Linked DNA regions of Homo sapiens. The protein of the gene in region 3 purifies or fractionates together with the protein of the main gene of each other region. This does not show direct contact. Each region holds a gene or a part of one and is shown on either strand. Other genes may lie near its edges.

Region 1 (5,213 bases), on a different chromosome or scaffold from region 3:
AGGGGGGTTGATCCCCTGGCACAGGTCGAGGCCCTGGACCCACATCCTTTGTCTGCCTCTCCACCCCACAGTGCCCATTCATCGACGATTTCATCCTGGCCCTCCACAGGAAGATCAAGAATGAGCCCGTGGTGTTTCCTGAGGAGTGAGTTGTCCACCCAGGGGAACAAGGGGGCTACCACCCGCTCCTGGTGTCTGAGTTTTAGCAGAGCTTTTGCCCTCTGAGGACCCCACCCCAGCCTGCAGATATGAAGGTGGCGGTGCTGTTCCCTGGGAGGGACCCCTGAATAGATGGACGGGAGGGACTCTGGAGCCAAGGGTCTCCGCAACGTCACTGTGTGGATGGGAACCCTGAGATCCAGGGTTGGCCAGGGATGACCACAGGCATCATTCACACCACTCCTTCACCGCAGGCCTGCCTGGGGTCAGTGGCGCCAGCCCCACCCAGCCCCTGGACTCAAGGGGAACTTCTCCTTCCCCCACTCAGGGTCAGGGAACTTCAAGATGCCAGTGCGTGCTCCCCATTTCACAGATGGAAAAGAGGATGCTCTGGAGGAGAGCGGTCAGGGGGCTGGGACTCAAGCCACTCTTCCTCCCCACTCTTCCCATTGTGACCGAGGTCTCTGAGCGTAGCAGGGACGTCGGGGAGGCCTCTTGCTCATGCATGGTTCGCCTCATGACGGCCACCGTGGCAGCCACAGCCTGAGCTCCCAGGCTCCTCTTTTCAGCAGTGGATTTCAGGAGTGAAATGGAGGCCGGGTGCGGTGGCTCACGCCTGTAATCCCAGCACTTTGGGAGGCTGAGGTGGGCAGATCACCTGAGGTTAGGAGTTAGAGACCAGCCTGGCCAACATGGTGAAACCCCATCTCTACTAAAAATACAAAAATTAGCCAGGCGTGGTGGCGCACATCTGTAGTCCCAGCTACTCGGGAGGCTGAAGCACGAGAATTGCTTGAACCCAGGAGGCAGAGGTTGCAGTGAGCCTGGGCGACAGAGCAAGACTCTGTCTCAAAAAAAAAAAACAGAAGAAAGAAACTGAATAAGGCCGGGTGCGGCGGCTCACACCTGTAATTCCAGCACTTTGGGAGGCCAAGGAGGGCGGATCACGAGGTCAGGAGATCGAGACCATCCTGGCTAACACGGTGAAACCCCATCTCTACTAAAAATAGAAAAAAAATTAGCCGGGCGTGGTGGCGGGTGCCTGTAGTCCCAGCTACTCGAGAGGCTGAGGCAGGAGAACGGCGTGAACCCGGGAGGCAGAGGTTTCAGTGAGCTGAGACCGTGCTACTGCACTCCAGCCTGGGCGACAGAGCGAGACTCTGTCTCAAAAAAAAAAAAAAAAAAAAAAAAACAAAAAAAAAAAAACAAAAAACAACAAACAAAAAAAGAAAATGAAACGGGACTTGTACTCAGCGACTCCTGCTCTCTTCTGCTTATTTCCTGTGTGGTCCCCAAGCCCTGCTGAGCCCTCCTCTTCCCTGTCTCTGGGCCTTGTTGCCACTTATACCCCTTGCCTCATTCAGGCCTCAGGCCCCTCCCCAGACTTATCTAGCCACCTTCCCCCTGGTCTCGCTGCTGCTGGCCTCCCTCCAGTCCAGCCAACACATTCAGGCGGGGACAGCCCTGATAAAGCACAACAAATCTGCCTGCATCTCTTGCCTGAAGTTTGTCTGAAGCTTCTCAAAGCCACACCCTGGCGCTAGCATTCACACGTCTCCGGGTTCTGCCACCCGCTCGTCTGGGGCCGCCTCACTCCCTTTCCCGAGCACCAGCCAGCTGGCTTCTGTCCATTTCCTCCTCATCCTGTGGTTGCCTTCCCTCCCTGCCTCCACAGTTGTACCCCTGGTGCCTCTCTTCCTGCTATACCCCCTGCTGAGGGGTGTCTTTCCCCTCAGCCCAGGAATTTTAAAAGGGATGAAGCATCTAAGACAACAGGGGGAACCGAAGTCAACAGTCCTGAGAGTGGCTTTCTGCTCCCTAGTCTTGGAAGGATGGGCTCCCCAAGACCACTGGTGGCAAAGAAACCTGGGGTTTGGCCGGGCGTGGTGGCTCACGCCTGTAATCCCAGCACTTTGGGAGGCCAAGGCAGGCGGATCATGAGATCAGGAGATCGAGATCATCCTGGCTAACACGGTGAAACCCCGTCTCTACTAAAAATACAAAAAATTAGCCGGGCACGGTGGCGGGCACCTGTAGTCCCAGCTACTCGGGAGGCTGAGGCAGGAGAATGGCATGAACCTGGGAGGCGGAGCTTGCAGTGAGCCGAGATTGCGCCACTGCACTCCAGCCTGGGCCACAGAGCGAGACTCCATCTCAAAAAAAAAAAAGAACCCTGGGGTTTGGGCAGAGAGAGTTGGAGCTGATGTGGCGCTGAGGGGGCTGCTCCCTCCCATCTGAGTCTCCCATCTCTGCCTGCACTCTTCTGGCTGGCACTGTGCCAGCCTGCTAACCTCCCTGGGCCTCAGTTTCCTCCTCTGTCAAATGAGAGAGGATCTTCTCTGGGTGTAGAAAAGGACGAGGTGGTGAGTGGGTCTGAAGGCCTCTGGTGTCCCATAAAGCGACTCTCCTCACCATCTTTGCCACCCATTGGGGTGTCCAGCACCCATGGAACTCTGTCTGTGCCTCTGTCCTGGAGGGAGACTTGACCTCCTGCTCAGGAAAGGCTCTCCAAGCCCTTGTTGTGAAATTCCTGCCTGCTGTCCGGAACTCAGTCTTCCCATCCGAGGGACGAAGGTTTCGGGAAGAGAGGTGGACAGGAAGGGGTCCTCATCAGCGGTCCCACCCTCCTCTCCTTCCTTCGCCCTCTCCAGGCCAGAAATCAGCGAGGAGCTCAAGGACCTGATCCTGAAGATGTTAGACAAGAATCCCGAGACGAGAATTGGGGTGCCAGACATCAAGGTCGGGGAACTGGGGGTCTTGGGCTGGGCTGGGACACAGAAAACAGGAGTCACTTTCCCTTTCTGGAGGGATCAACACCAGGATGCATGTGTGTTGGGTTTGAGTCTGTGGACTTTGGACCCCTCCAGGTGATTCTGGTAATGGCCTGACCTCTCCCCCTCTCCCTGCCCTCCCGGCCCCGACAGTTGCACCCTTGGGTGACCAAGAACGGGGAGGAGCCCCTTCCTTCGGAGGAGGAGCACTGCAGCGTGGTGGAGGTGACAGAGGAGGAGGTTAAGAACTCAGTCAGGCTCATCCCCAGCTGGACCACGGTGGTAAGAGAGCCGGGGTAGATGCTCCCTTGTCCTGGAGGGCCTGGGGGACCTGAGCCTTGCTCTGTGCCTGGCTCCTTGGGGGGACAGAGGCCTGCCTGGCCAGCCAGCTGTGATCCTGGGCCACTGGAGCCGCCATTCTGCTGGAGGCCCATGGAGAGGGAGGTCTTGTGGTCGGGAGACCAGGAGGCTTGGTGAGGAGAGTGACTGATTTAAAGAAATAGCGGGCGTGGGGCCGGGCGCGGTGGCTCACGCCTGTAATCCCAGCACTTTGGGAGGCCAAGGCGGGCAGATCACGAGGTCAGGAGATCGAGACCATCCTTGAAACCCCGACTCTACTAAAAATATAGAAAATTAGCTGGGCGTGGTGGCGGGCGCGTGTAGTCCCAGCTACTCGGGAGGCTGAGGCAGGAGAATGGTGTGAACCCGGGAGGTGGAGTTTGCCGTGAGCCGAGATCGCGCCACTGCACTCCAGCCTGGGCCACAGAGCGAGACTGCGTCTCAAAAAAAAAAAAAGAAGAAAAGAAAAGAAAGAAATACCGGGCGCGGTGGCTCACGCCTGGAATCCCAGCACTTTGGGAGGCCGAGGCGGGTGGATCACGAGGTCAGGAGATCGAGACCATCCTGGCTAATACGGCGAAACCCCACCTCTACTAAAAATACAAAAAAATTAGCCGGGCGCAGTGGTGGGCACCTGTAGTCCCAGCTACTGGGGAGGCCGAGGCAGGAGAATCGCTTGAACCTGGGAGGTGGAGGTTGTAGTGAGCCAAGATCACGCCATTGCACTCCAGCCTGGTTGACAGAACGAGACTCCATCTCAAAAAAAAAAAGAAAGAAATAGATGGCCCTTGCTCAGCGGCAGCAGTCACCGTGACTGGAAGAAGCATTTCATTCCGTCCAGACAGTTACTGAGCTTCCGTTCTCCAGGCACTGCACAAGGTGCCGAGGACAAGGCAGGGGAACGGCCTGGGCAGCCTTTGGATTGGAGGAGTGGCCCCAAAGCCCACGTATCAGTTAGGCGGCGCCTGCGTCTCCCCCAGAGCCCACGTATCAGTTAGGCAGCACCTGTGTCTCCCCCAGAGCCCACATATCAGTTAGATGGGCCTGCGTCTCCCCCAGCGCCCGCGTATCAATCAGGCAGTGCCTGCGTCTCCCCCAGATCCTGTGTATCAGTTAGACGGTGCCTGCATCTCCCCCGTGCCCACGTATCAGTTAGACGGCGCCTGCTTCTCCCCCAGAGCCCACGTATCAGTTAGACGGCGCCTGCTTCTCCCCCAGAGCCCACGTATCAGTTAGACGGCGCCTGCTTCTCCCCCAGAGCCCACGTATCAGTTAGACGGCGCCTGCTTCTCCCCCAGAGCCCACGTATCAGTTAGACGGCGCCTGCTTCTCCCCCAGAGCCCACGTATCAGTTAGACTGCGCCTGCTTCTCCCCCAGATCCTGTGTATCAGTTAGACGGCGCCTGCTTCTCCCCCAGAGCCCGCGTATCAGTTAGACGGTGCCTGCATCTCCCCCAGATCCTGCGTATCCATTAGACAGTGCCTGTGTCTCCCCTAGTGCCCGCTCACATTTCGGTTTTGCTCCTCTTCCTCTGCTCAGCTTCTGTGTTGGCACTTGGAAGTGATTCACATAGTCCCCCGTGGCCACCTGGGGCCACTGAGAGCCCTGCCCTGCCCCTGCCTGACAGTCAAGTGAGTCAGGGCAAGCACAAGGCCAGGAGGAGAGCCAGGGCCACTGCCGTTGGCGGGGCCTGGCCTTGCACTTTATCCCCCTCTGCAGGGTCCCGGCCCAGCTGGGACCAGCTGGCTCAATCCCTGCCCCCTATGCTTACTTGACTCTGTGGGGTCGCTGGAACCAGGCAACTCCCACGGGGTCCCCATGACCACTTGCCTGATCTTAGCCACCATCTCCTCTCTCTCAGACCACTGGAACAACCTCCCACGCTGTCCCTTGCTTCTACTCTCACTCCCTGTCCCCCTGGTCAATGCTCAACTCAGCACCCA
Region 2 (5,954 bases), on a different chromosome or scaffold from region 3:
ATGTGCTTTGTTAAACAGATGCTTGAAGGCAGCATGCTTGTTAAAAGTCATCACCACTCTCTAATCTCAAGCACCCAGGGACACAATACACTGCGGAAGGCTGCAGGGACCTCTGCCTAGAAAAGCCAGGTATTGTCCAAAGTTTCTCCCCATGTGATAGCCTGAGATAAGGCCTCGTGGGAAGGGAAAGACCAGACCGTACCCCAGCCCGACACCCGTAAAGGGTCTGTGCTGAAGAGGATTAGTATAAGAGGAAGGCCTTTTTGCAGTTAAGAGGAAGGTATCTGTCTCCTGCTCGTCCCTGGGCAATGGAATGTCTCGGTGTAAAACCCGATGGTATGTTCCATCCACCGAGATAGGGGAAAACCGCCTTAGGGCTGGAGGTGACACATGCTGGCAGCAATACTGCTCTTTAATGCACCAGATATGTTTATGTATGAGCACATCAAGGCACAGCACATTTCCTAACCTTGTTTATGACACAGACATTTGCTCACATGTTTTCCTGCTGACCCTCTCCCCACTGTTACCCTATTGTCCTGCCACATCCCCGTCTCCGAGATGGTAGAGATAATGACCAATAAATACTGAAGGAACTCAGAGACCCGGCCGGCGCGGGTCTCCTGAGCCCACTTTTCTTTCTGTGTACTTTGTCTCTGTGTCTCTTTCTTTTCTCAGTCTCTCGTCCCACCTGACAAGAAACACCCACAGGTGTGGAGGGGCAGGCCACCCCTTCAGTGAGGTATAATTACATATATCCTATTTTAGGATGGAGCAGGAAGAGCATGAGAGCCCAGGAGTTCCAGACCAGCCTGGGCGACACAAGGAGACCTTGTCTCTATTTTTTAAGTATTTTTAAAGTAATATATACAACGTTTACTTGTCAAAGTGTACAGCATGGAGCGATGTTATATATACAGTGAAATGATTACCACAATCCAGCTAATTAACATATCCACTGCTTCATATAGTTGCCTTTCGTTTTTGCAGTGACAACGCTTGATGTACTTAGAAAAATTCAGGGTTTTTTGGCCAGGCACGGTGGCTCACGCCTGTAATCCCAGCACTATGGGAGGCCGAGGCGGGCAGATCACAAGGTGAGGAGCTCAAGACCATCCTGGCTAACACGGTGAAACCCCGTCTCTACTAAAAATACAAAAAAAAAATTAGCCGGGCATGGTGGCGGGCGCCTGTAGTCCCAGCTACTTGGGAGGCTGAGGCAGGAGAATGGCTTGAACCTGGGAGGCGGAGCTTGCAGTGAGCCAAGATCGCGCCACTGCACTCCAGCCTGGGCGAGTGAGACTCCCTCTCAAAAAAAAAAAAAAAAAGAAAAGAAAAGAAAAATTCAGGGTTTTTTTTTTCTTTTTCAGAAAGTCTTGCTCTGTCGCCCAGGCTGGAGTGCAATGGTGCGAGGCTTACCACAACCTCCTCTTCCCGGGTTCAAGCGATTCTCCTGCCTCGGCCTCCCAAGTAGCTGGGATTACAGGTATGCCCCACCACACCTAATTTTTTTTGTATTTTTAGTACAAACGGGGTTTCACCATGTTGGCCAGGCTGGTCTTGAACTCCTGACCTCAGGTGATCTGCCCACCTCAGCCTCCCAAAGTGCTGGGATTACAGGTATGAGCCACCAGGCCTGGCCAAGTATTTTTTTTCCCAAGTACATTTTTTTCTTTTTTTCTTTTTTTTGAGATGGAGTCTCCCTCTGTTGCCCAGGCTGGAGTGCAGTGGCACAATCTCGACTCACTGCAACCTCCACCTCCCAGGTTCAAGTGATTCTAGTGCCTCAGCCTCTCAAGAAGCTGGGATTACAGGCGCACCGCATCACGCCGGGCTAGTTTTTGTATTTTTAGTAGAGACAGGGTTTCTTGTTTTTTTCTGAGATGGAGTCTTGCTCTGTCACCCAGGCTGGAGTGCAGTGGCGCGATCTGGGCTCACTGCAAGCTCCGCCTCCCAGGTTCACGCCATTCTCCTGCCTCAGCCTCCCAAGTAGCTGGGACTACAGGCGCCCGCCACTATGCCCAGCTAATTTTTTTTGTATTTTTAGTAGAGATGGGGTTTCACCGTGTTAGCCAGGATGGTCTCGATCTTCTGACCTCGTGATCCGCCCGCCTCGGCCTCCCATAGTGCTGGGATTACAGGCGTGAGCCACCGCGCCCGGCCGAGACAGGGTTTCTCTATGTTGGCCAGGCTGGCCTCGAACTCCTGACCTCAGCTGATCCACCCGCCTCGGCCTCCCAAAGTGCTGGGATCACAGGCGTGAGCCACCGCATCTGGCCATTTACATTTTTTTTTTTTTTTGATGCAGCATTTCACTCTGGTTGCCCAGGCTGGAGTGCAGTGGCGCAATCTCAGCTCACCGCAACCTCCGCCTCCCGGGTTCAAGTGATTCTCCTGCCTCAGCCTCCCGAGTAGCTGGGATTACAGGCATGTGCCACCACGCCCAGCTAATTTTGTATTTTTAGTAGAGATGGGGTTTCTCCATGTTGGTCAGGCTGGTCTCAAACTCCCGGCCTCAGGTGATCTGAAAGTGCTGGGATTACAGGCGTGAGCCACCGCGCCCAGCCTACTTTTTTTTTTTTTTAAACAGGGTCTTCATCTCATCCAGGCTGGAGTGCAGTGGCTCAATCACACCTCATTGCAGCCCCCACCTCCTGGCTCAGGTGATCCTCCCACCTCACCCCACAAGTAGCTTGGACACAGCACAAGGTCTGGCCTTCTTTGTTTTTTGAGACGGAGTCGCACTCTGTCTCCCAGGCTGGAGTGCAGTGGCGCGATCTCAGCTCATTGCAACCTCCCCCTCCTAGGTTTAAGCTATTCTCCTGCCTCAACCTTCCAAGTAACTGGGATTACAGGCATGCACCACCACACCTGGCTAATTTTTGTGTTTTTAGTAGAGACAGGGTTTCACCATTTTGGGCAGGCTGGTCTCAAACTTCTGGCCTCAAGTGATCCACCCGCCTCGGCCTCCCAAAGTGTTGGGATAACAGGCATGAACCACTGTGCCTGGCCTTATATTTTTTTGTAATGACAGAGTTTTACCATGTTGCCCAGGCTAGTCTCAATCTCCTGAACTCCTCTAAACTATATTTGAATAGAAGTCCTTAAGACATTAGGCCAGGCGTGGTGGCTCACACCTGGAATCCCAGCACTTTGGGAGGCCGAGGCAGACAGATTACCTAAAGTCAGGAGTTCAAGACCAGCCTGGCCAACATGGTGAGACCCCGTCTCTACTAAAAATACAAAAATTAGCTGGGCATGGTGGCACGTGCCTGTAGTCCCAGCTACTCAGGAGGCTGAGGCAGGAGAATGGCGGGTGAACCCAGGAGGCGGAGTTTGCAGCGAACCAAGATCACGCCACTGCACTCCAGCCTGGGCGACAGAGGGAGACTCCGTCTCAAAAAAAAAAAAATCAAAGATCCTTCCAGCATCCTCGCACCAACCATTAAGGCTTGGGAAGGGCTATGGTGGAAACTCAACCAATAGCTTCTTCTCCCTTAAACGAGAAGACAAAGAAATCGATGCAAGAACCAGCACTCACCTCCCTCAGGTCAGGTCTTGCTTCCAGCCTGTGTTTCCTGCAAAGGAAACGGATAAAAAGGGGAGGTCTCTGGCCCTTGGTACGCTAGGTGGAGAGACAGCTTTCCCGCCCAGGGTGGAACCGCCCCACTGAGATTAACATTGGGTGGCTCCCAACCACTGACCTCAGGCTCACCTTGACATCACCTGGGCCCCATCCTCAGGGATTTGGCTGTAATTGGGCTTCAGTGGGCTTTGGAGAATTACGGCTTGCTGAATCTCCCCAGGTGAGATTAATGTGCAATTCCCTTCCTAGACCACCCGGGCCAGGTGTGATAGGCGACAGAACAGGAAATACACATTTTGGGTTTTGCAGGGTACCTGGCTCCCAGCTTTAAAAACTCTTGTAGAGAAAAAAAATTAAACAAAAATAAATAAAAATTAAAAAAAAAGAGGACAAAAACTCCCGTGACTTCCTAAGTTACAAATACAATAAGTCTACTTTGTGGCCAACTGTGGTGCCTCCTGCCTATAAATCCCAGCAGGCTGAGAGGCCTAGGCCAGTGGATCCCTAGGGGCCAGGAGTTTGATACCAGCCTAGGCAACATAGCAAGATGCCATCTCTTCAAAAATATTTAATAATTAGCCATGCATAGGCTGGGCGTGGTAGCTCATGCCTGTAGTCCCAGCAATTTGGGAAGCCGAGGCGGGTGGATCACCTGAGGTCAGGAGTTGGAGACCAGACTGGCCAACGTGGTGAAACTCTGTCTCTACTAAACATACAAAAAATTAGCCAGGTGTGGTGGCAGGTGCCTGTAATCCCAGCTACTCGGGAGGCTGAGACAGGACAATCACTTGAACTAGGGAGGTGGAGGGTGAGTGAGGCACGATCACGCCATTGCACTCCAGCCTGGGTGACAAGAGCAAGACTGTCTCAAAAACAAAAACAAAAAAATTAGCCATACATGATGGGCTGCACCTGTAATCCCAGCTATTCAGGAGGCTGAGGTGGGAGGATCACCTGAGCTCAGGAGTTTGAGGCTGCAGTGAGCTGTGACTGGCCATCTCACTCCAGCCTAGGCCACAGAGTGAGACCCAGTCTCAAAAAAATAAATAGATAACTGATATTTAATTTTTTTTTTTGGATGGAGTCTTGCTCTGTGGCCCAGGCTGGAGTGCAGTGGTGCAATCTCCATTCTTGCAACCTCTGCCTTCCAGGTTCAAGCAATTCTGATGCCTCAGCTTCCCAAGTAGCTGGGACTGCAGGCACATGCCACCATGCCCAACTAATTTTTTGTATTTTTAGTAGAGACAGGGTTTCACCATATTGGTCAGGCTGGTCTCAAACTCCTGATGTCAGGTGATTACAGGCATGAGCCACCGCACCTGGCCTAAAATTGTTTTTAAATAAAACAGTGTATGTTGTGGAAAGCATTCAGCACAGAATTTTGGTAGTTTAAACTGTTAATTTAATGGAAGCAAATGGTCCCACAAATGAAGATGTATATATCAGTTGCAGCATGCCATCTATAGAAATAGGCACTATGGAGGCCTGGCATGGTGGCTCACACCTGTAATCCCTGCACTTTGGAAGGCTGAGGCAGGTGGATCATCTGAGGTCAGCAGTTCGAGACCAACCTGGGCAACATGGCAAAAAACCCCTGGCTACTAAAAATAAAGAATTAGCCAGGCATGGTGGTGTGCACCTGTAATCCCAGCTACTCAGGAGGCTGAGGCGTAAGAATTGATTGAACCTGGGAGTTGGAGGTTGCCGTGAGCCGAGATTGCACCACTGCGCTCCAGCCTGGGCGACAGAGACTCCATCTTTAAAAAAAAAAAAAAAAGATGGCCAGGCGCAGTGGTTCATGAATGTAATCCCAGCACTTTGGGAGGCTGAGGCGGGAGGACTGCCTGAGTCCAGGAGTTCAAGACCAGCCTGGGCAATATGGCGAGACTCCCTCTCTGAAGAAAAAGAAAATAAAAACAATAAAAATAAATTATATTCTAGCTGACAAAAAGAGAGAGAGAGTATATTTTGTTAAAACATTTGGCCTTTAGTCCTAGAGCAGCTATGGAGAGATAAACATGAAAGAGGTATCTCTTGTTATACATACCCAGGCCCTGCAACCACACCTGAGTTTATGTAAATGAGGTGACTTTTGGAAAGCCCCTAGATAACCCCACAAGTGCGAGGGACTGGCTGCCAAAGAAACCGTCAGTGATTAGACATTGGGAACTTTCAGCCCCAGGCTCCAAGTGGCCTCCAGGGAGGGGAGAGGGGCTGAAGGTTGAATTGATTATGAACTGCCAGCTATGTGATCAGCATTGCCCACCTAAGGAATCCTCCATAAACCCCAAAAGAAAAGGGTTTGGGCCGGGTGTCCTGTGGCTCATGCCCGTAATCCCAACGCTTTGGGAGGCCTAGATGGGAGGAT
Region 3 (5,953 bases):
CTATTCTCAGAATTAGGTTGGCAGTGCACGAAGATGGAGAAGTGACTGAGCGTCGAGGAGGGAGTGTGTGAGTGGGTATCTCAAATGAATCCATTTAGGAGTTTGTTCAGGAGTTCCTGGGGCCCACAGGAGGCATCTTGTTACCTGGAGAATCTTTTTTGGCTCCTCCTACAATCCCACCCCTTCCCCAACCCCAGCGGTGAGTTGGGCCCCAGGCTCCCAGTTGGAGCAACACTCACCAATGCCAGTGAGGTACAGCACAGCTGTGCCCACGGGGGCATCCTCGTTGGGCCCATAGTATGTGACCGAGACCTGTGGAGACAGCATCCCGAAACCATAGGCAGTGTTGGACGGGAGGTGCCAGGAACAGAGCCCCAGGCCATGTGCCGAGTCTAGGCGTGGGATCTTGGTCTTGTGTTATGGCTTCTGAAGTCTCACCTATGAGCTGGTATGGGGCCACAGCCCTGCGCTTAGGGCTGAGTCAGTCCCCTAAGGACTTAGAACCTGCCATGACCCCCAACCCTAACCTTGTCGAGAGCCAGGCTTGAAACCACCTGTCCACGTGAGAGCTGTATCCCTGATGGCGGGGTGATCAAGGGACTTATCCCAAAGGGATTTAAGAAACAGGCTGCCTGGCTCTAGAGCCCAAGCTTGAAACCACACTATACATCCTCCCTGCTAAACCCACTCTCCTGGGGTCCCATGTCCTACTCCATAAGGTGCACGGTGGGGAAACAGGCCTCTGGTGGCTTAAGCTGCTCACTAAGAAGGACACCCAGGTGAAGAAGCAGCGTTGGGACTCAGTCCCAACTGTGGGACTGTGTCCCACACCAGCCTCTACTTTATGCTTTTAGAAAGAGACCTGCCCTCCAGCCACTGACCCTGACCACAAGGTCTTGGTCATGAACCAGAGACCCAACCATTGGCCAGAGCATGTGACAGATCCACCCCATCCTTAAATAGAAGCTTTAGTCCTCTAAGTTCAAGGTTCTTTGTTGGCCACTCCTGAGGGTCCTGGAGGCCGAGCCCTGGGCAGAGAATGGTTCTCAGGTAGTCTGGAGTTCCACTGGCACCCACCGTGGCCTCCATTCTTATCTGAGATACCTTTTTTTGCGATGGAGTTTTGTTCTTGTTGCCCAGGCTGTAATGCAGTGGGACAATCTCAGCTTACTACAACCTCCACCTCCTGGGTTCAAGCGATTCTCCAGCCTCAGCCTCCTGAGAACCTGAGATTACAGGCACCTGCCACCACACCTGGCTAATTTTTGTATTTTTAGTAGAGACAGCGTTTCACCATGTTGGCCAGGCTGGTCTCAAACTCCCGACCTCAGGTGATCTGCCCATCTCAGCCTTCCAAAGTGCTGGGATTACAGGCATGAGCCACCACACCTGGCCAGAGACACTCAGTTCCTACCTAAGTCCACTACTTGCCTCTCAGGGAGTTGCCTGCCCTGGGCACACAGCGCAGGTGGGTGTGTGTACCTACCCCTCTGCAGCAGACATCTCCAGTAGGTCCTGTAGGGTGTGGGGGGAGGGAGGGAGAGCTCTCCCAGTCCTGAACTGCTCCATCATGGTTCTCACCCCCAGCCCCGCACTGGGTGCACCTGGAGAGCTTTAAACCAGCGGCCAGGATCCTAGCCCTGAGGTTCCATTGGTACCTCAGGTTTAATTGGTAGAGGGGGTGTGGCCTGGGTATTGATGTTATTAGCTCCCCAGTGGTTCTCACCTGCAACCAAGGTTGAACACTCCTGCCCTGAATGAGCCACCTGCTTCTACCACAGGAGAACCTCCCCAACATAGGCACCCCATTAGGGAGACAGCTTACCCAGGGGAGAATACACCCTTGGGCTCAAGCTCAAATCCTGGGTCTATCCCACTCTAGGTAGGCTACTTAGGTTTAGACACAGCACTCTGTGCCTTAGTTTCCTCATATGTAAAGTGATGGTAGGCCAGGTGTGGTGGCTCATGCCTGTAATCCCAGCACTTTGGGAGGTGGAGGCAGGTAGATCACTTGAAGTCAGGAGTTTGAGACCAGCCTGGCCAACATAGTGAAACCCTGTCTCATACTAAAAATACAAAATTAGCCGGGCATGGTGGTGGGTGCCTGTAGTCCCAGCTACTCGGGAAGCTGAGGCAGGAGAATTGCTTGAACCCGGGAAGTGGAGGTTGCAGTGAGCTGAGATTGTGCCATTGCACCCCAGTCTGGGCAATGAGCGTGAGACTCAAAAAAAAAAATAATAATAAATAAATGAAAATAAAAAATAAATCCCAGTCCTGCTGGTTGCTGACTTGGCAGGGCACCTTCGCTAGGTGCCTCTGTTTCTTTGTAAAATGGGGTCATGGAGTGCCCACACCACTGGTCTGTTGCAGACACTGGATGAGATCAGACGTGCAAAACAACGTGTTTCCCAGGCTCGAGTCACGTCTGCAGCCAGGAGGAAGCCCCAGTGGCTGTGCTAGGTCCCACCCCGGGAGATGCCCCTCACCTCTTCCCCTGAGGCTTACCTTATCCGCATCCACGGAAGGGCTGGGCGATGTCATCTTCACTGTGGCGTACGTGGGATCAGACAGGGGCCACCAGATGGTGGCGTCCTCCTTCTCAGAAATCACCGTGTTGGCCACATCGATCAAGACCCTCCCAGAGCCATGGATGGTGAAGCACTGGCACTTCTGGGGGGCACACCTGGTTTGCCCGGTAAGAGACACGCGTCAGGGCACAAACACCTTCTCAGCCTAGGAGATGACTGGCATGGGGGAGGGGACGGCTCCCGAATCCTCATTCTCCTTAGGGTGTTGAGGCAGAGTGGTCTGGGGTCCTTATTCCTACCCACCCCCTCCCAAAGGACCCCTGTGTTTGCTCTCCGACGGGCTCCAGCCCAAACCCCATCCCGCTACCGACACTGCAGAAGTTACCACAGCTACATCTTAGTAATAAGCACCCAATTCCCAAGAAGGGGGGAGCCACAAAGGATCCCCATAAAGAAAAAGATCAGGGCAAGCGACTCAGGAAGTTGTACTGTGACCCTGCTGAGTCACCTCCACCTGCAGGCTCCAGCATCTAGCAGTCTCCCTGGCCTGCTCCTCACAGCCCCCCGAGGCCAGCGTCCCCATGGTTTCACAGATAGGGGAACAGAGAGGCCAAGGCCCTTGCCTCACTAAGAGTCCATGGCAGCTGCTACAGGGCAGAGGCAGGATTTAAGTCAGAATTCTGCGTGGTTGGAACTGGGAGGCCCCCCACTAGAGACCCAAGGCTTCCCAAGATGGGGCAGGATAGTGAGGCTAGAGAAGTAACCCCCAACTCCCAGATCAAGGGGACTGGGTCCCAGGCCTGCCTGCCTGTCTGCCTGCCACCTCTGGCAGAGCTCCCAGCATCTCACCCGCTGAGATCCAAGCAGATTTCTGTGCCCAACACACAAACGGCATGGACAGGGCTGTCCAGGGACAGGTGGATGATACTCTGGAAGGACATGGCTCGGCCCTCCACGCTGACCATCCTCAGGCCTGCACCGCAGCCCTCACTCAGCACAGCAGCCTCAGACGCCCCAGGGCTCACCCTGCCCTTCCCTGTTATACAGTCCAGGCCTGTGCAGGCCACCCCCTTGTTAAGAAGGGGAGGGGTCAGCAGCTGCCCAGGTGTCACTGATTTTCCCTCTAAGAGCTTCCTGGTGGCTGATAGTCTGGGGAGCAGGTGGCATCAGAACCCCTTCATCACCAATTTATCAGGCACCTCGTGCCTGCAGAGCTGCAGGCCAGGGGAGTCTGAGGCCGGTTGCTTAGGCATCTGTGGCCTTCAGCTGGGAAGAGGAGGGGCTCTGGGAAGTCGGTGCCTTGGAGTGATCAACTTGGCCATGTTGCTGGAGGACTCAGCTGGAAGCTGTCGGGGCAAATACCTGCAGAGGGCAGTTGGGAGGAGTTGATGGTAGCAGTCAGGATGGCAATGTGTGGCAGCATGCCCAGGCTCTGGGGTCTCAGTTCTAGGGTGTGTGTCTCCTGGAAATTGACGAAGGAGCTCGGCAAAGTGCTGGACTGGTGGTTTGGTTTTGTTTTTGAGACAGGGTCTCTACCCATGCTAGAGTGCAGTGGCGCAATCATAGCTCACTGCAGCCTCAACCTACCTGGCTCCAGTGATCCATCTCAGCCTCCCAAGTAGCTGGGACTACAGGTGTGCACCACCATGTCCAGCTGATTTTTGTATTTTTTGTAGAGACCGGGTTTTGCCATGTTGCCCAGGCTAGTCTCGAACTTCTTGATCCCAGAAATCCTCCTATCTCGACCTGCCAAAGTGCTGGGATTACAGGCGTGAGCCACAGCGCCTGCCTAGACTAGGTGGTTATTAACCCTCTGGTGGTTTCAAAAATTATCAAGGGTGCTTGTTAACATTGCAAATTCCTGGGCCCAGAAGGTCTAGGGTGTGGTCCAGGAACCTGCATCCCAACCCCCAGTGATTAAGGTGAGCTCTTTGCTTACAGCTGTGTCGGTGGGGGTGGGGGCACAGCAAGTGTTAGTGGAATGAATACATCAAGCCAGGGTCATCAGCTGCTACTCATCTCAGCGGAGCCCACAGAGCAAAGAAATAGGAACCCTTCTCTGGCACAAGGAACTTACATAACTGACTTTAAAATTGTGTTCATTTCATGTCTTAAGCTTGGGTTGAGTTTTTTTTTGTTGTTGTTTTTGAGACAGGGTCTCACTCCGTTACCCAGGCTGGAGTGAAGTGGCGTGATCATGGTTCACAGCCTTGACCTCCCAGGCTCAAGTGGTCTTCCCACCTCAGCCTCCTGAGCAGCTGGGACTACAGATGTGCACCACCATGCCCAGCTAATGGTTTTACATTTTTCCGCAGAGATGGGGTCTTGTTATGTTGCCCAGGCTGGGTCATGCTTACTCCTGAATAGGTACCACAGTCACATGATTCCAAGTTCAGAGTCTCCCTCCTGCCCTGTGCCTTACCCACCTGCAGGTGGAGGTAGTGACAGTGTTACCCGTTTCTTATATGTCTTTCCAAATAAATGTTATGCATGACCAAGTAAATATGTGTGTGTATCCTTTTCTTCTTCTCTTCCTCCTCCAATACTAGCATACAGTTAGATAAATTTGAAGGGGCTTTATGGTGAGAAAGGGAAGGACGTGGAGTCTATTTTAAGGTTAAGGGAAAAAGGCTTCTGCAGGTTCCTTCGAGGTTACATCTCGAGACTAAAGAGAAAAGTTGTAAAATGTGCTCAAAGTTAAGCTGCTTGGTTACAATTACAAACTTTTCAGTTCAGTGGAGATGCCCCTGGAAGCCCATTGGGTTATCTTTTTTGAGGAAGGACAAGGAGGTCATTTAGTCATTTGCTCCACTAGAATTGCTGAACACCTACTATGTCCGGGGCGCTTTTGCTCTTTTCTTCTCTCCTCCTACTACTGTCTTCTTATATAAACGGTAGTATGTGCCACCCAGTATTCCATACCTTGCCTCTTTCACTTCATAGTTATACTGGAGAGAAGTTCTTTGTATCAGTACGTAAAAAGCAGCCTTACCCCTTTGTACAGCTGTGTATTTTACATAGGGTTGTACTGTAATATAAACATTTGTTTTCAGCCTTTGCTCTAATATGCACCCAGGTGTACCCAGCATAGGAGGTGGAGATGAGGTACTGAGTGAAGCCTGTTCGGTCAGCCAGGCTGGCTAAATTTGCAAGTTGCAGTAAAAAATTCCCTCCCTGGAGGTTTTAAGCACTCAACACAACTCTCAAGGATGTCTCTGTTTTAGTTGCTCTTGGAGGCAGGGGGTTGGTCAGCAAGACCCAAAATGCCCCTCTGGTTGGATTGAAAGTGGCAAAATTAAGCAGGCAGGAAGCACTCAGCGTGCAGAGGCTCTGATGAGACTCATCCCAAAGGGCTCACCCACCCTCACGCACAAGCGGCCAGAGGCAGCTGGAGGGAGAAGACGGGTTGACTGGGGAGGGGTCGC
Region 4 (5,213 bases), on a different chromosome or scaffold from region 3:
ATAATTTTGCCACATATTAAATGTGCCCCAATATATTGTTAGGTTTTACACGTTTTAATATAAGTGCAGTAATATATATTATTCAGATGTTTTTTCACTGAACAATGTTTGTGAAATTCATCTGTGAGATTGCATGAGGAAATGGTTCACTTAATTGATATGTTATATAGTGTATGAGCATAATATACTTTATCTTTCTACAATAAAAATTTTAATTTTAAGTATTAAAGTGTTACACACATGCAGAAAAATGTACAAATCCCAAATGTACAGCTCAGTGAATTACCACAAAGTAAACATTACAAACCAGTTCAAGAAACAGAGTATGACCAACACTCAAAAGCCACCCTTGAGCTCCCTTCTTGTCCTCCCCAAAAGTGACCACTATCTTCATTCCTAATCCAGAGATTCGTTTTACCTGTTTTTGAACTTAATTGATATCCTTTTGAATTTGACTTTTTTATCTCAACATTATGTGTGTAAGATTCCCCCAGCGACATGTAGCTATAGTTTGTTCCTTTCATTGCCATGTAGTATTCTTTTATATGATATGGCACAATTTATCCATTTTATAGTGGATAAACATTTGGATTGTTTCCACTTTGGAGCTGTTACAAATAATACTGTAGTAAACACTCTTGGACATATATGTATGCATGCCTTTTTCATCAGTAGAGTTGCTCAGACAGGACACATAAAGTACACTTTAACCATTCTTTTGGTGGATGATTGTGTTGTGCTTCTGTGAACATTTGTGTATATTTATCTAGATGCAAAATTATAATAGACATTCAGAAGAGTAGATATATAGGAATGTAATTACTGAGTCAGGACACATGTATCTTCAACTTTTTTAGATAATGTAAAATTGTTTTCCAGAGTAATTTATACAAGTTTACACTCTCACCAACGGAGTATGCATTTCTTGCTACACATTCTTGCCAACAATTATTATCTGACTTTATATTTTTTGCCACTTTGGAAGGTGTGTCATGGTTTATTGTGCTTTTAATTTTTGTGTCCCTGATTACTAATAAGATTAAACATATCTGTCTTTATGGGCCACTTTGGTTTTTAAATTTTATATTTTTTCTGCTTATTCTTTAGTGTGGAGATGTACTTTCCTCAGAATGACTCTTGGATTGGTTTGGCACCCCTAAACATTCCTCGCTATGAATTTGGAATATGCGTTTTAGACCAAAAAGTATATGTTATAGGTGGTATTGCAACTAATGTGCGTCCTGGCGTCACTATCAGAAAACATGAAAATTCAGTGGAATGCTGGAATCCTGATACAAATACTTGGACTTCTCTAGAGAGAATGAATGAAAGCCGAAGTACTCTTGGAGTAGTAGTACTTGCAGGAGAACTTTATGCCTTAGGTGGTTATGATGGACAATCTTATTTACAATCTGTAGAGAAGTACATTCCCAAAATAAGAAAATGGCAACCTGTGGCACCAATGACGACAACAAGAAGTTGTTTTGCTGCAGCGGTATTGGATGGAATGATATATGCCATTGGTGGGTATGGTCCTGCCCACATGAACAGGTATTTAACTTAATAATTAAATTGCATATGTTTATGGATTTTTAAAAGTCTCATTAGCAATGATTTCTGAGTTTTAAACAATTTGTGTGTATGAATGAACTTCCGGCATTTGGGAAACTTAATCTGCTCCATGGATATAATTGTAATTGTTTTACATGGGAATTTAATACAAACCTAACAATCAAATCCCTCTCATTAAATTTTACATTCATTCACTATAAATGGACTAGATTTTAAAACTCAGAAACCTAAAAATAAGATGAAGTTAGACAACTTTAGATTTTGTGTGGTGTGTACATCTATGTGCACAGTATGTAAATTATCTTTTATTGTATTGCTTAATAGAATAAAGAAGTAGAAATTTAATTCCTGTGTGTCTATACAATATTATAGCACATCATAAACTTAAAACCTTATTTAAATATTCCTTTCTGAATTCTTTCCTGTAATCATACATGTATCATCAGGTATTTGACTTGTGCTGGAGTTTGAATTTGTGATATCTGTATTCTGTAGTTTTATCTGAATAAAGGAGAAATATATATGAGAAAATAAAAGTATGAAGTAACTAGTTATATGAGAAATTAATCGTAATTCTGAACCTTTATTGAAAATTGATGTTCCAAAGGTTTTATCTTTGGCCAGGTGTGGTGGTTCACGCCTGTAATCCTAATACTTTGGGAGGCTGACGTGGGAGGATTGCTTGAGCCCAGGAGGTTGAGGCTGCAGTGAGCCTTGAATGCACTACTACACTCCAGCCTGAGCAACAGAGTGAGACCCTGTCTCAAAAAAAAAAAAAAAGAAAGAAAGAAAAGAAAAGATTGTATCTTTAATAGTAATTAGAGTGGTTTGTGTTATTTTGATTGTGAGTATTTTAATGACAGGGCATACAGTCAGCCCTCCATATCCACGGGTTCTACATCCACAGATCCATCCAACTGTGGATCAAAAATATTTGAAAAAATTTACAATAATAAAAAACAAAATAATACAGTATAACAGCTATTTGCATAGTATTATAAGTAATCTAGAGATGATTTAAAGTATACAAGAGGATACGTGTAGCTTATATGCAAATATTATACTGTTTTATATAAGGAACTTGAGCATCTGCAAATTTTGGTATCCTTGGGATGGGGTGGATCCTGGAACCAATCCTCTACAAATACTGAGGTTTGTTGACTGAGAAAGTGATGGCACAACAGCATTTCATCTGTAAATTTTTACTTCTATTGAAGCCAAAGTATTCCTCCTTTTATTTATTTATATTTTTTGCCCTTAGTTGAAGGAAAAATATGGGACATAGACATGCATTTCTATTCTTTGAAAAGCTTCTGCCCAAAATTTGTAAGATAAAAGGTTAAGTATTTTAAATTTGATTATCTTGAAAGTCTTGCTGCAGTGCATCAACTCTTCTTCAATGATTTTGGTCTAATGGATTCTATCCTGGAGTTCTTTCAGAAACATTACCCAGTCTCTATTATGAACTCCAGAATGGTGTCACAGCCTGTTAAATGCTTATGGTTTTTTCAGGAAATAGGTTAGGGCCAGAACAAGCCCAACAATCTTACCTCTGTGCCTTTGTGCACCTTCAGAGGAAACCATAGTCTTAAACAGCTGCTAGAATTTTCTAGGGAAGCCTTTTTGAAAATTCTGATTTAATTTGGATTCCATAATGCAGCTTAGAAATGCCACACGTTCTCTGAAACACAGTCTTGACTCAAATTCCTGAGTACTCCTAAATCACCCTGAGATAATTATGATCAGCCAGTTTGTACTATGCAATCTACAGTGATTGCTTTGCAGTAAGCCACATGAATTCTCCTGTGACGAAAAAAAATAAAGGTTTTTCTCCCCACCCCCCACCCCTCTCTTCCTCTTCTTTTCCCCTTAACTGTATAGAAGATCCTAAAAACCTCTGTATTCAAGCCAGGCATGGGGGCATGTACCTTTAGTCCTAGCTACTCAGGAGGCTGAGGCAGAAAGATCACTTTAGCCCCGGAATTTGAGGCTGCAGTGAGCTCTGATCTTGTCACTGCACTCCAGCCTAGGTGACAGAGCGAGACCTGCCTCAAAAATAAATAAATAAAATTTAGGAACAAAAAAAAAAAGTCTGTATTCAGTTAGTGGTTTTCAAAGTCACGTGCATACTCATTTGACTTTATTCTTATATGAATCCCTTCAGGTTGCACTATCCTCATTTTTGCAGGTGAGAGGAAATGACTTATTCAGGATTACACAAATCCACAGCAGTAGGGTTAAGGTTCGTTCAGCCCTAGGTATACAGAATTAGTACTTGAACCCAGGTCTTCTGACTCCAAGTTCTATGCTCTTAATATACTTTGCCGCTTGCACAATATAATGGAATAGCATATGGAATTGCACCTTGTTTACAAGGTAAGCTTTTATCTTTGCAATCTTATCAGCAAAACCTAAGCATTTGTGGCAGACTACTCTTGTTTAATATCTCTCTATTATGTGAACTTTTAAAGCTGTAGTGGGTTTTAGTTTTGCTTTGACAGGAAGAATGACACAAAAGATCTGTAAATTAAATTTTTTTTAAATATTTGCAGTGTGGAGCGTTATGATCCAAGTAAGGACTCCTGGGAGATGGTTGCATCCATGGCAGATAAAAGGATTCACTTTGGCGTGGGTGTCATGCTAGGCTTTATTTTTGTGGTGGGTGGACATAATGGAGTCTCACATTTGTCCAGCATTGAAAGATACGATCCTCATCAAAATCAGTGGACTGTGTGTAGACCAATGAAAGAACCTAGAACAGGTAATAAGAATTTATTAATTTCTAAACATGTAAGGCAATGTTTTCTATAATGATGTGCTTGCAATAATAGTTCCTTGGAATATAGCAGTAGGAATATTACTTGTCCAGAAAAAAAAAAAAAAAGACTTGTATGTGGTAAACTTGAAAGACAATTAGCTAGACAAAAGTATATAGATTTCTTTATTGTGACTTTTATATGCCAATGTGCATATTATTGTTTCTCAAACTTGCTGAATACATTTTGGGAAATGCTTATACTAGAGTGTGTATTTATAGAAGCTCCTTTTGTCCATGTAACAAATGTCATCTTTTCATATGTTACATACATACAATCCTCGGATTGTTCTGTTTTGTTTTCTATTGTATATCAGTAATCTGTATGTTCACTTTCAAATGTTCTTTCTTCCCCAGGGGGTATAGTTGATCAAAAAGGGTTGTATTTCAGAGTTCGTAGAAACAAAACAAATCCACTTTTGTGGTTTAGGAAAAATTGTTATCTTTGAACTCAAACTCATCACATCATTTTAAGGGAAAGGTTTTAAGATACTGACAGAAATGCTTTAGGGAGCACTCCTCATACAGATTGAATATTTCCTATCCAAAATGCTTAGGACCAGAAGTGTTTCAGGTTTTGGATTTGGGATTTTGGAATATTTGAATTATGCTTACCAGGTTGATCATGCCAAGTTCAAAAATCTAAAGTGTGAAATGCTTAAGTGAACACTTTCTTTGAGCATCATATGGTGCTCAAAAAGTTTCAGATGTTGGGCCAGGCACGGTGTGGCTCACACCTGTAATCCTAGCACTTTGGGAGGCCGAAGTGGGAGGATCACTTGAGGTCAGGAGTTCAAGACCAGCCTGGGCAACATGTTGAAACCCC

The links.
Region 1: the proteins of PADI6 (region 3) and CAMKK1 purify together in Homo sapiens (affinity purification with mass spectrometry; one large-scale study listed by BioGRID and IntAct). This does not show direct contact.
Region 2: the proteins of PADI6 (region 3) and NLRP7 purify together in Homo sapiens (co-immunoprecipitation; one study listed by IntAct). This does not show direct contact.
Region 4: the proteins of PADI6 (region 3) and KLHL28 purify together in Homo sapiens (affinity purification with mass spectrometry; one large-scale study listed by BioGRID and IntAct). This does not show direct contact.

The regions. Positions count from the first base shown.
Region 1 is NC_000017.11:3,867,486-3,872,698, reverse strand, and holds part of CAMKK1 (calcium/calmodulin-dependent protein kinase kinase 1), read left to right. Parts: intron 1-71; coding exon 72-145; intron 146-2,810; coding exon 2,811-2,898; intron 2,899-3,083; coding exon 3,084-3,212; intron 3,213-5,213. UniProt on the Homo sapiens protein: Calcium/calmodulin-dependent protein kinase that belongs to a proposed calcium-triggered signaling cascade involved in a number of cellular processes. Phosphorylates CAMK1, CAMK1D, CAMK1G and CAMK4. Involved in regulating cell apoptosis.
Region 2 is NC_000019.10:54,943,928-54,949,881, forward strand, and holds the start of NLRP7 (NACHT, LRR and PYD domains-containing protein 7), read right to left. Parts: upstream 3,604-5,954; 5' UTR 3,542-3,603; intron 1-3,541. UniProt on the Homo sapiens protein: Inhibits CASP1/caspase-1-dependent IL1B secretion.
Region 3 is NC_000001.11:17,369,786-17,375,738, reverse strand, and holds the start of PADI6 (inactive protein-arginine deiminase type-6), read right to left. Parts: upstream 3,544-5,953; 5' UTR 3,494-3,543; coding exon 3,378-3,493; intron 2,684-3,377; coding exon 2,506-2,683; intron 313-2,505; coding exon 240-312; intron 1-239. UniProt on the Homo sapiens protein: Structural constituent of cytoplasmic lattices, which plays a key role in early embryonic development. Cytoplasmic lattices consist in fibrous structures found in the cytoplasm of oocytes and preimplantation embryos.
Region 4 is NC_000014.9:44,930,453-44,935,665, reverse strand, and holds part of KLHL28 (kelch-like protein 28), read left to right. Parts: intron 1-1,107; coding exon 1,108-1,551; intron 1,552-4,124; coding exon 4,125-4,333; intron 4,334-5,213.